4 linked regions of the Homo sapiens genome follow. The protein of the gene in region 3 interacts with the protein of the main gene of each other region in a biochemical or structural test. Each region holds a gene or a part of one and is shown on either strand. Other genes may lie near its edges.

Region 1 (4,051 bases), about 34 Mb from region 3:
GATTGAGACCATCCTGGCTAACACGGTGAAACCCCGTCTCTACTAAAAATATAAAAATTAGCCGGGTGTGGTGGTGGGCGCCTGGAGTCCCAGCTACTCGGGAGGCTGAGGCAGGAGAATGGCGTGAACCCGGGAGGCAGAGCTTGCAGTGAGCCGAGATCGCGCCACTGCACTCCAGCCTGGGCGACAGAGTGAGACACCGTCTCAAAACAAAACAAAACAAAAAACAAAAATTAGCCAGGCATGGTGGTGGGCGCCTTTTTTTTTTTTTTTTCCAGAGTCTCACTCTGTCACCCAGGCTGGAGTGCAGTGGCTCAATTTCAGCTCACTGCAACCTCTGCCTCCCGGGTTCAAGCGATTCTCCTGCCTCAGCCTCCCGAGTAGCTGGGATTACAGGCGCCCGCCACCACGACCAGCTAATTTTTGTATTTTTAGTAGAGACGGGGTTTCACCATGTTGGCCAGGATGGTCTTGATCTCTTGACCTTGTGATCCACCCGCCTTGGCCTCTCAAAGTGCTGGGATTACAGGCGTGAGCCACTGTGCCTGGCTGATAGTGGGCGCTTTTAATCCCAGCTACTCTGGAGGCTGAGGCAGGAGAATCACTTGAACCCAGGAGGTGGAGGTTGCAGTGAGCCGAGATCACGCCATTGCACTCCAGCCTGGGCGACAATAGCAAAACTCTGTCTCAATGAAACAAAACAAAACACCAACCAAACAAACAAAAAATTGTTTTAATACAAAGTAAAGAGCTCTCAGTAAATGTCAATGTCTAGACAAGCAGAGATGAAACACACAGATGAATTAGACCTAGTGTTGTCTTCAGGGAGCTCCCGGGAAACTGATCTCTGCAGAAAGGGGGAAGCACAGGCACTGTGGGGGGTGCCCAGAGGAGGAGGAGGTGATGCCAGAAAGTTCTGGGGGGATGAGCAGGTGGAATGAATGAGCCGAGGATGAGCTGATGAGATAGTGGAGGAAGCTGGGGTGCAATTCTCTGCCTAAATGGCCTTTGGAGTTCTCTGCAATCTCACCTCTGCCAGAACTAACCTCCAGAGGCCGAGTCTGAGTCCCTGCAGAGCCCAGCCCAGCAGGAGCAGGGAAAGGGAGGACTCGAGCCCTCCAGGTGTCTCCCAACCGCGGCCTCTGAGGGCAAGGGGCAGCGCATTCTGTTGGAACCTCGGACTGCAGTGCCAGGCAGGTAGTTCCCAAGGCTGGAGGCCAGGATCGAAGGGCTGGGCTGGGCCTGGCTCTGATAGCAAAACAATCAGACCACAGCCCAACCCCCTTCCCAGGCAAAGGCCAAGGACTTGGACCCATCAGACCCAGCCGAGGGGCAGGTGGGTCAGGTGGGGGCAGACAGGGAAGGAGGGTGGGACCCTGGGTCTGCCGCCCAGCCAGGGACCCTGCTTTGGCCAGCTGCTGAAACTCAGAGGATGTAGGACCCAGTGTCAGGGCTCCCGTGGGGACACCCCAGGCCCAGGAATTGTCCTTTGGCGACTGAAATCCTCAAGTGCTTGCTCTGCGGTAGGGAGTGGGGAAGAAGGAAAGAGTTCCCTATTAATAACAGGAACAGTTACTATTGCCGCCGCCAGACATGAGGCCTAGTCTTTTGCAGGCATGAGCTCACTGGACCCTCAAGTCAGAGCCATGCAGTGGGAATTTTAGATTCCCACTTTGCAGCTGAGGAAACGGAGGCTCCTAAAGGTTTAGGAAGCCGGGCACAGTGGCTCAAACCTGTAATCCTAGCACTTTGGGAGGCTGAGGCAGGCGGATCGCCTGAGATCAGGAGATCGAGACTACTCTGGCCAACATAGTGAAACCCCATCTCTACTAAAAAATACAAAAATTAGCCGGGCATGGTACACACGCCTGTAGTCCCAGCTACTTGGGAGGCTGAGGCAGAAGGATCGCTTGAGCCCAGGAGGCGGAGGTTGCAGTGAGCCAAGATCGCGCCACTGCACTCCAGCCAGGGTGACAGAGTGAGACTCTGTCTCAAAAAAAAAAAAAAAAAAATGGTTTAGGAGCAACTAACTCTCAGCTGGACTGCATGGAGGGACCAGGATGGGAATCCACTCTTGTCAGTCTCCAGGGCCCTGATCTCCAACCCCACCCCTGGCTCGGCAGGATTAGGATTCTACAATACATCCCTGGCAGTAACTGGCTTTGCCCACAGCTGGAAGCCACCCTCTGCTCCCTCACATCTTTAGGAGTCTTGCAAAAGACTCCATGGGGCTCTCGAAGAAGGAACTGGGGACTCTCCATCTCCCCGACCCCATCCCAAGAGCTAACCAAACACCAGGAGTTCCTGCATGTCAGGAGCGGGAGAATTCAGTGGAGATGGGATTGGGGAGACTTCCGGAGGAGATAAGAGACAAAAGGGGTGGGGTGGGGGCATGGGGAGAGGGGCACTTGGTGGTAGGCATTGCCGAACACAGTACCTTGGGTGTGGACAGCGGGGGCCCAGGCTCCCAGGAAGCCGGCCACCAGGCAGGCCAGGAGCCACAGGTTCATGCTGCAGGCGGGTCCTCCTCCCTGGGCACCTGGACGAATAACGGGGCCACCTGGGGTCGTGGAGGGAAGTGGTAAGGACTGAGGAAGAGGAGGGGAGTGGGTACTGGGAACATCCCCCCTCTTAAGCCCCAGGCATATGGCAAGGGAAGGAGGTTGTATAAAGTAGGAACAAGTTGTGCTGGAGGGAAAAGCTGTTCATCTCAGTCATGTTCAAGGAAAAGACTCACCGATATCCACTGGGTCAAGGGAGCTGATGCCCGCCGGGCTGTAGGCCAAGCTGTCCCATCTGCAGGACCAACACGCTGAGCTTCACTCTTTATAGACAGAGCCCCACCCAGCCACCCCCTGCCCGCCCTCCTCCCTTCCTCCTCCTCTCCACCTGCACTCTCAGCCTCTGGAATTCTCCCTCTTCTACAGCAAGCTCCAACCTCGACCCACAGGCCCCCTTGCCTCCCCACTCCCCATCCCAGGCCTCCCAGCCAGCACCCCTACTGTCTCCAGAAAGGGCCTTTTCCCCTGTTTCCCTCACCTGCACACACCTGGTGGACACTGGCTGCCTGCGAACAAGGCTCAGACTGCCTTGAGCCCCCAAACAAGCCCTTACCTTCATGCTCCCCCCGCCCTCAAGCCACCTGTTCCCTGGTGGGTCCCCAACTTCACTCCATTTCCCTCTCCTTCCACACCATGGTTAGGTAACTTAGCATGTCACAGAAATCCTCTGGTTGTGATCACAGGCAAATCCATAGAAACAGAAAGTAAATTAGCGGTGGCCACAGGATGGGGGGAGGGGAGAATGAAGGACTGACTGTGAGAGGGTATGGGTTTCCTTTTGTTCTGAAATTAGATGAGAGTGATGGTTACATAACTCTATGAATATAGTCAGCACGGCACAATGGTGCACCTCCCACCGGTGAACAACCCCAACAAGAAAGAAACTCTCTAGGCCAGGCATGGTGGCTCATGTCTGTAAGCCCAACACTTTGGGAGGCCGAGGCCAGAGGATTGCTTGAGCCCAGGAGCTCAAGACCACCCCGGGCAATATAGAGAGACCTGCGTCACTACAAAAATTTTTTAAAAAATTAGCCTGACGTAGTAGTGCATACCTGTAGTCCCAGCCACTCAGGAGGCTGAGGTGTGAGGATTGCTTGAGCCTTGGAGGTTGAGGCTGCAGTGAGCTGTGATCATGCCACTGCACTCCAGCCTGGGCAACAGAGCAAGACCCTGTCTCAAAAAATGGAAAAAAAAACGGTGGCCGGACACAGTGGCTCACACCTGTAATACCAGCACTTTGGGAGGCCGAGGCAGGCGGATCCTCTGAGGTCAGGAGTTCGAGACCAGCCTGGCCAACATGGCAAAACCCCATCTCTACTAAAATTACAAAAATTAGCCGAGTGTGGTGGGGGGGCACCTGTAATTCCAGCTACTCAGGAGGCTGAGGCAGGAGAATCGCTTGAACCCGGGAGGCGGAGGTTGCAGTGAGCCGAGATTGGGCCACTGCATTCCAGCCTGGGCGACAAGAGTGAAACTCTGTCTCAAAAAAA
Region 2 (3,500 bases), on a different chromosome or scaffold from region 3:
TCTAGAAGAAATGGATAAATTCCTGGACACATACACCCTCCCAAGACTAAACCAGGAAGAAGCTGAATCCCTGAATAGACCAATAACAGGCTCTGAAATTGAGGCAATAATTAATAGCCTACCAACCAAAAAAAGTCCAGGACCAGATGGATTCACAGCTGAATTCTACCAGAGGTACAAGAAGGAGCTGGTACCATTCCTTCTAAAACTATTCCAATCAATAGAAAAAGAGGGAATCCTCCCTAACTCATTTTATGAGGCCAGCATCATCCTGATACCAAAGCCTGACAGAGACACAACAAAAAAAGAGAATTTTAGACCAATATCCTTGATGAACATCGATGCAAAAATCCTCAATAAAACACTCACAAACCAAATCCAGCAGTACATCAAAAAGCTTATCCACCATGATCAAGTGGGCTTCATCCCTGGGATGCAAGGCTGGTTCAACATACACAAATCAATAAACGTAATCTAGCATATAAACAGAACCAATGACAAAAACCACATGATTATCTCAATAGATGCAGAAAAGGCCTTTGACAAAATTCAACAACTCTTCATGCTAAAAACTCTCAATAAATTAGGTATTGATGGGACGTATCTCCAAATAATCAGAGCTATTTATGACAAACCCACAGCCAATATCATACGGAATGGGCAAAAACTGGAAGCATTCCCTTTGAAAACTGGCACAAGACAGGGATGCCCTCTCTCACCTTCCTATTCATCATAGTGTTGGAAGTTCTGGCCAGGGCAATTAGGCAGGAGAAAGAAAGGATATTCAATTAGGAAAAGAGGAAGTCAAAATGTCCCTGTCTGCAGACGACATGATTGTATATTTAGAAAACCCCATTGTCTCAGCCCCAAATCTCCTTAAGCTGATAAGCAACTTCAGCAGTCTCAGGATACAAAATCAATGTGCAAAAATCACAAGCATTCCTATACACCAATAACAGACAAACAGAGAGCCAAATCATGAGTGAACTCCCATTCACAATTGCCTCAAAGAGAACAAAATACCTTGAAATCCAACTTACAAGGGATGTGAAGGACCTCTTCAAAGAGAACTACAAACCACTGCTCAATGAAATAAAAGAGGATACAAAGAAATGGAAGAACATTCCATGCTCATGGATATGAAGAATCAATATCATGAAAATGGCCATACTGCCCAAGGTAATTTATAGATTCAGTGCCATCCCCATGAAGCTACCAGTGACTTTCTTCACAGAATTGGAAAAATCTACTTTAAACTTCATATGGAACCAAAAAGGAGCCCACGTTGCCAAGACAATCCTAAGCAAAACAGAACAAAGCTGGAGGCATCACACTACCTGACTTCAAACTATACTACAAGGCTACAGTAGCCAAAACAGCATGGTACTAGTACCAAAACAGAGATATAGGCCAATGGAACAGAACAGAGTCCTCGGAAATAATACCACACATCTACAACCATCTGATCTTTGACAAACCTGACAAAAATAAGAAATGGGGAAAGGATTCCCTATTTAATAAATGGTGCTGGGAAAACTGGCTAGCCATATGTAGAAAGCTGAAACTGGATCCCTTCCTTACACCTTATACAAAAATTAATTCAAGATGGATTAAAGACTTAAGTGTTAGACCAAAAACCATGAAAACCCTAGAAGAAAGCCTATGCAATACCATACATGCCATAGGCATGGGCAAGGACTTCATGACTAAAACACCAAAAGCAATGGCAACAATAGCCAAAATTGACAAATGGGATCTAATTAAACCAAAGAACTTGTGCACAGCAAAAGAAAATACCATCAGAGTGAACAGGCAACCTACAGAATGGGAGAAAAATTTTTACAATCTATCCATCTGACAAAGGGCTAATATCCAGAATCTACAAAGAACTTAAACAAATTTACAAGAAAAAATCAACCCCATCAAAAAGTGGGTGAAGGATATGAACAGACATTTCTGAAAAGAAGACATTTATGCAGCCAACAGACCATGAAAAAATGCTCATCATCACTGGCCATCAGAGAAATGCAAATCAAAACCACAATGAGATACCATCTCACACCAGTTAGAATGGCAATCATTCAAAAGTCAGGAAACAACAGGTGCTGGAGAGGATGTGGAGAAATAGGAACACTTTTACACTGTTAGTGGGACTCTAAACTAGTTCAACAATTGTGGAAGACAGTGTGGTGATTTCTCAAGGATCTAGAACTAGAAATACTATTTGACCAGCCATCCCATTACTGGGCATTTACCCAAAGGATTATAAATCATGCTGCTATAAAGACACATGCACATGTATGTTTATTGCAGCACTATTCACAATAGCAAAGACTTGGAACCAACCCACATGTCCATCAATGATAGACTGGATTAAGAAAATGTGGCACATATACACCATGGAATACTAGGCAGCCATAAAAAAGGATGAGTTCATGTCCTTTGTAGGGACATGGATGATGCTGGAAACCATCATTCTGAGCAAACTATTGCAAGGACAGAAAACCAAACACCGCATGTTCTCATTCATAGGTGGGAATTGAACAGTGAGAACACTTGGACCCAGGGTGGGGAACATCACACACCAGGGCCTGTCGTAAGGTGGGGGGAGCGGGGAGGGATAGCGTTAGGAGATATACTTATTGTAAATGATGAGTTAATGGGTGCAGCACACCTACATGGCACATGTATACATATGTAACAAACCTGCACATTGTGCACATGTACCCTAGACCTTTAAGTATAATAAAAAAAAATTGGTGTGGATGTATGTGTGGGTTCACATTGCTAAATGCATAGAGGAAATTCTGGAAGGATATGCAGAACCCTCTGGAGAGGGGAGAGGGATTAAAGGAATGATGAAGAGGGACTTTCCTTTTTTTAATTCTTTAAATTTTTATATTTGAAAATACACTAAGTATTTGTAACTTTCATAATATTAGGATAAATTCTTTAATTTTTGTGACATTTTTGGTAATTTTATTTTTTTGGTAATTTTTTACTTTTTTTTTTTTTTGAAATGAGAGTCTCACTCTTTCACCCAGGCTGAAGTGCAGTGGTGCGATCATGGCTCACTGCAGCCTCGAACTCCTGGGCTCAAGCAATCTTTCTGCCTCATTCTCCCAATTGCTGGGATTACAGGCAGCGAGGCCAAGGCAGGAGACTTGCTTGAGGCCAGGAGTTCAAGACCAGTCTGGGCAACATAGTGAGACTCTATCTCTACAAGAAAAATTTTTTTAATTAGCCAGGTGTGCCTGGGCATGGTGGCTCACACCTGTAATCTCAGCACTTTGTGAGGCCGAGGTGGGTGTATCACCTGAGGTCAGGAGTTTGAGACCAGCCTGGCCAACATGGTGAAACCCCGTCTCTACTAAAAATACAAAAATTAGCTGGGTGTGGTGGTGCACGCTTCTAATCCCAGCTACTCAGGAGGCTGAGGCAGGAGAATTGCTTGAACCCAGGAGGCGGAGGTTGCAGTGAGCCGAGATTGCACCATTGCA
Region 3 (2,584 bases):
ACCAGAGTCACTCCGTGAAATCACTAGGGAAGAAGCACGTTGAGAATAGAAAAAAGAGGTGAAATTAAGACCAGGATAAGCACACAACTCAGCCCTTTCTACTCAATGTCACCTTGTCGGGAAATAGGAAGAGAGGAAAAGCAGGATACAATTTTCCTGATACTGGAAAGGTTTAACCAAATTCTTAGATTTTAAAACCTCACTGTTTACCAAAGTGGGGGTAGATGGGGCTGTTGGAGATCTGGTCATTAATCTCTGAAGATTACACCAGTGTCAGCATCAAACAGAATTTGACTCCTCCCTAGTCTAGCAGTTTTGTGTTTGTTATTTTGTTCTGTTTTTTGAGTAGGGGGTCTTGCCATGTTGCCCAGGTTGGTCTCAAACTCCTGGGCTCAAGTGATCCTTCCACCACAGCCTCCCAAGGATCTGGGGTTAGAGGTACACACCACCACACCCAGTTTAGTCTACCAGTTTTTAAGTGTCATATAAAAAGTAAATTGGCAGCCGGGCACAGTGGCTCATGCCTGTAATCCCAGTACTTTGGGAGGCCGAGGCAGGCGGATTGCTTGAGGCCAGGAGTTCAAGACCAGCCTGGCCAACATGGTGAAACCCCGTCTCTACTAAAAATACAAAAATTAGCGGGGCATAGTGGTGCATGCCTGTAATCCCAGCTACTCGGGAGGTTGAGGCACGCGAATTGCTTTAATCCGGGAGGTGGAGGTTGCAGAGAGTTGAGATCATGCCACTGCACTCCAGCCTGGGCGACAGAGTGAGACTCTGCCTCAAAAAAAAAAAAAAAAAAAAACTAAATTGGCAAATGTTAAACTGATTGATATTATGATATTATCAAGAATGGGATATATCAGGATCCTTATACACTATTGACGGAAGTAAAATAAATTTGGCTGTATCAAAATTGTAAATGAGTATAATAACTTTAGTAATCTTACTTTAGGAAATCTCAACAATGGAATACTAGCATGGATGCTCAAAATATAGGTACAAGAATATTAATTATAGCAGTATTTGTATTGACAAATAAATGGGGGAAATTTTCTTCAAAGGCAAATTGGGAAAAACTAATTACTGTCAAAAATAATTAAGTAAACCAGGGGCAGTGGCTCAGGCCTATAATCCTAGCTACTCAGGAGGCTGAGGCAGGAGGATCCAGTAAGCCAAGGAGCTCAAGACCAGCCTGGGCAACATAGCAAGATCCTGTCTCTAAAATAAATATAATAATAACAATAATAATAAAAATAATAATAATAATAATGAGATAAATCATTATGTGTTGGCTGGAGAGATATCCACAATATATTAATGAAAAAAAAATGATGTAGAGACCCCCTATTTCACATCCTTCATTAACGTAAGTTTCAGGTGGATTACAGATCTAAATTTGAAAGACAAATTTACAAGGAAATACAGGAGAATATATTCACAACCTTGAGGTATGAAAGCCTTTCTTAAACAAAATACAAAATGCACAAACCATAAAGTAAAAGAGTAAATAAATCTGACTTCACTGAGATTATGAAATTTTGATCATCAAAAGAATAAAATGACAAGCTGCCAAATAGGAGACGATATCTGTAACATACACAACCTTCAAAGGATTAGTATTCAGAATACATATATAAGGAATTGCTACAGACCAGTGAGAGGAGGGCAGGAAATACAACAGACAAACGGGCAAAAATACTTGAATAGCCACTTCACAGATGATGAAACCCAAACAGCTAATAAACAGATGCAATGGCACTCAACCTTATTATTACAAGGAAAATGTGAATTAAAACTAAAGTGAGGCCAGGTGCAGTGGTTCATGCCTGTAATCCCAGCACTTTGGGAGGCCAAGGCAGGGGGATCACCTGAGGTCAGGAGTTCGAGACCAGCCTGGCCAACATGGTGAAACCCCGTCTCTACTTAAAATACAAAAAAATTAGCCGGGCGTGATGGTGCACATCTGTAATCCCAGCTACTTAGGAGGCTGAGACAGGAGAATTATTTGAACCCGGGAGGCAGAGGTTGCAGTGAGCCAAGATCACGCCACTGCACTCCAGCCTGGACAACAGAGTGAGACTCCATCTCAAAAACAAAAACAAAAAAAATGGGGAGAGACATAAACATTCAGACCATAATATATACATAAAGTTTAAAAATGAGAAAAAATAAACTAAATTATTTAGGAATCTATACACATAGGTGGTAAATAATAAAGAAAAGAAAGTAAATAATTACTATAAAAGTCAAGATTATCACTGTGAGGGGGAGAGAAAGCAGTGATCAGAAAAGGAGGGGTGCTGTTGGCAATATTCTATTTCTTTCTTTCTTTCTTTTTTTTTTTTTTTTGAGATGGAGTTCTGCTCTTGTTGCCCAGGCTGGAGTGCAATAGCGCAATCTCGGCTCACTGCAACCTCCGCCTCCCGGGTTGAAGCAATTCTCCTGCCTCAGCCTCCTGAGGAGCTGGGATTACAGGGATGCGCCACCACACCCAGCTAATTTTGTATTTTTAGTAGAGATGGATTTCTCCATGTTGGTCAGGCTGGTCTCGAACCCCTGACCTCAGGTGATCTGCCTGCCT
Region 4 (2,907 bases), on a different chromosome or scaffold from region 3:
ACCCCCGTTGTGGTTGTTACCAGGATTCAAAGAGATAGGGCATGTAAGGCTCCCCGCACAGGGTCTGGCTCACAGTAGGCAATAATTACACCAGTCCTCTATTGTTGCCGTCCTTATGCAGCCCCAGGGAACTTGGAGAGCCCTTGGCTGAGGCATCCAGCCTCTTTGCTGCCCTCTGGTGCTGAGGCTCAGTGTGGTCTTGCGTGGAGGAGGCTGGGATCGTGACCCTCTAGTTCCCTGTGCTCCAACCTGCCTGCTCTGATACACCTGCTGCAGGGGTAGGAATCGTCGGGGAAGGAGCCTTAGCCTCAAGGCCTGGCTTCTTGGCTTCCTGACTGTAATGACAGCTCCACACGTTCCACAGAGGTGATGGTGTTGACAGGTATTTGGGAAATACCAGTTTTCTTTCCCAGCATATTTGTCCTTATTTTTTCAGGACATGGTAAACATTTTATTGTCATCCTAGCTTAATTAAATAGAAAAAAGGTGGCAGTCTAGAATTTTGGTACATTTCAAATATATTTTATTACTTTCCATCTTAGAAAGAATATGAAACCTGCATGCAATGCTAATGGTTTCTGACATGTACATAGCATATAACACAGCAGTACAATGCGGCATATACTGGGGGGCAGTGTGTGGAGGGGGCGTTCTTAAGGGTATATGTACAGAGGAAAGGGCGCATGGTCATCTTAGCTTTCGAAAGAGGACTGCACTGTTTAACATTGAAGAATTACATGGGGAATCACAAATATATTGCTTTAGTACTGCATGTTCTGTTGTGGTGAGGGAAAGAAACATGCTTTGAAGGTTTTCCCTTGTCAACAGAATGTGTGTCTGTAGCTGTGTATTGCGCATGTATTCATATATTTTTAAGTTTTCTCCTAAGGTTTTTGCTGACAGTGTTGGGAACCTCACATGCTTCTGAAGCATTAAATATTGAACCTGTGAACCTTTCAGAAATCCTCAGGTTGGGAAAGACCCCACACCTTCTTTAAGGATCATTTGTCTCGCCATCACAGGATCTTGGAAATGTTTCCTAGGGTGTGTAAAAATTAACCAGGGGGGAATGAAGCACATTTTTCTGGCAACCAAACTTGAGTTCCTCAGAGAACAGATGCAGAGAGACCTGCTCCTGCTTGCCCGGCTACAGGGGCCACTGTGGAGTCACACTGAGGCTGTGACCGGCCATAAGCCCAGGAGAGCCCGTGGCAGCTGTGCCGAGGCGCCAGGACCTCTAAGCGGAAGCTTCCCAAGCTAGGAATGGAGCAACACTGCAATGAAATGTGTCCACCAAGCTCATTGTTCCTCCCGGGCGCTTATAAAGCTCAGATGTATAGTGACGTATGGACAAATACAAAAAAGCATTTTTTAAAAAGGAAAGGCATGAGTTTTCCCCTTTTTGATAAAAAGCAGCCTGTGATGAAGTCTGGAGCACAAGAGAGATGGGTCTCCCATCTGGAAGCCTTTCGCACGCAGCTATAAAATGTAAAAACTGACCGTTGGTAAAAAGTGCTTCATAACAATATATAATTTGTGTCTTATGCCTGTGAGAAAGAAAGGCTTTTTTTTTTTTTTTTTTTTTTTTTTTTTTTTTTTTTTTTTTTAATCTGCAAAGTCCTTTGCACAAGTCTCCCAACTGGTTTGGAGTTTTCCCTTCTGAGGTTTTTCACCCTATTCTTCGTAGACCCTGGGGAGAAAAAACACATGTGTAAGTGGCTCAGGACATGAGGCAGGCCGTTCACAAGATGCTGGCTAAGCGGCTTCATTCACGTCTGGTCTGCAGGGAATGCCCCTGTCCCAGAACTGCAGGAACCCCCAGGAGAAGTGGGAGGGATCCTTCTGAGGATGTGGTCCCGGGGACCATGAAAACTCACACCAGTGTGGCTTTGTCTTTTCTAACCATCTGCAATCTCACTTCTGCAATCTCATTTTGTCCTCAGAGGCCTATGGAACAAACCCGCTTTGCATATGAGGAAACTGAGGCACCACAGACTTAAGATTTGCCCAGTGGCCACCGACTGTTAGTGGCAGGAATGTAGTCTTTCTCTAGCATGGCGGGCTGCTCCCACACCTCCTTGTTTCTTTCCGCGTCTGTACTCAGCCTCTCTATTTAGAGAAAATAGCAAGGGTGGGAGGCATTCCCTTACTTGACTTAGGCTTGTATATTTCTTTGTATTTTGCCCAAATAATGCATGTCCTCCAGAAGAATGCTAGCTCTAGAAGCTGCTTCCTGGAGACAGAAGAGGTGGTTGGTGGGGTGGGGCAGTGGTGCAGGAGGCCTGTGCCCCTCAGTCCCTGCTCCTGGCTGCATTGCCTCATCTCTACTCGTTCCCAGCCCCACCTTCCCCTCACCTCTCAAGCTGTGCCCAGTTAGATATTTTGCTTTCTTCTAGTTCTGCCCCATGGCTGCCCTGGGGCCATACGTTACACTTAGCCTATCACTTTTCTGTCTCGTTCTTGATTTCTGAGTAAGACCACTGAATTATCCATTGAAATAAAATGCCTGACTAGGCTGCTTCCTGTGGTGGCCAGAAGCTCCCTGGAAGCTCTGGTCTCTGAAGTGCACAGAGCTCCTCTGTGTGGCCCCCATGGGCCTGAGCCCACCGTATACCCTTCTACTTCCTCCAACCTAGCTTTGGCATTCTCTTTCTCTCTCTCTCTGTACAAAGAGGACTTCAAACACTTCCTTTATCACTGTTCTATGTTCATTAAGATATTTTCAACTTGTTTCAGGGGAGGGAGGTGGGGAGGGCAGGGACCTCAACACTCTAAGAAAGAGGGGTGAACTAATTTTATAGCAAAGTGAGAGAAGGCCTGGTAGTGAGAGGCTCTCGTTGCTTTTGTTATTGGAATTTTCAGGAAAAAAAAAAGCAGGGCCATGTTTAGACCTGTGGGTGCCTCCTT

The links. The genes of interacting proteins can lie anywhere in the genome.
Region 1: the proteins of CXCL17 (region 3) and CCL25 form a complex in vitro, tested with the Homo sapiens proteins (one large-scale study listed by BioGRID and IntAct).
Region 2: the proteins of CXCL17 (region 3) and CCL28 form a complex in vitro, tested with the Homo sapiens proteins (one large-scale study listed by BioGRID and IntAct).
Region 4: the proteins of CXCL17 (region 3) and CXCL14 form a complex in vitro, tested with the Homo sapiens proteins (one large-scale study listed by BioGRID and IntAct).

What each region holds. Positions count from the first base shown.
Region 1 is NC_000019.10:8,051,509-8,055,559, reverse strand, and holds the start of CCL25 (C-C motif chemokine 25 isoform 1 precursor), read right to left. Parts: upstream 2,801-4,051; 5' UTR 2,797-2,800; coding exon of another isoform or gene 2,738-2,796; intron 2,561-2,737; coding exon of another isoform or gene 2,511-2,560; coding exon 2,438-2,510; intron 1,519-2,437; coding exon of another isoform or gene 1,448-1,518; exon of another isoform or gene 718-1,447; intron 1-717. UniProt on the Homo sapiens protein: Potentially involved in T-cell development. Recombinant protein shows chemotactic activity on thymocytes, macrophages, THP-1 cells, and dendritics cells but is inactive on peripheral blood lymphocytes and neutrophils. Binds to CCR9.
Region 2 is NC_000005.10:43,405,892-43,409,391, forward strand, and holds part of CCL28 (C-C motif chemokine 28 isoform a precursor), read right to left. Parts: intron 1-3,500. UniProt on the Homo sapiens protein: Chemotactic activity for resting CD4, CD8 T-cells and eosinophils. Binds to CCR3 and CCR10 and induces calcium mobilization in a dose-dependent manner.
Region 3 is NC_000019.10:42,430,363-42,432,946, reverse strand, and holds part of CXCL17 (C-X-C motif chemokine 17 precursor), read left to right. Parts: intron 1-2,584. UniProt on the Homo sapiens protein: Chemokine that acts as a chemoattractant for monocytes, macrophages and dendritic cells. Plays a role in angiogenesis and possibly in the development of tumors. Acts as an anti-inflammatory in the stomach.
Region 4 is NC_000005.10:135,570,179-135,573,085, forward strand, and holds the end of CXCL14 (C-X-C motif chemokine 14 precursor), read right to left. Parts: intron 1,691-2,907; coding exon 1,675-1,690; 3' UTR 501-1,674; downstream 1-500. UniProt on the Homo sapiens protein: Potent chemoattractant for neutrophils, and weaker for dendritic cells. Not chemotactic for T-cells, B-cells, monocytes, natural killer cells or granulocytes. Does not inhibit proliferation of myeloid progenitors in colony formation assays.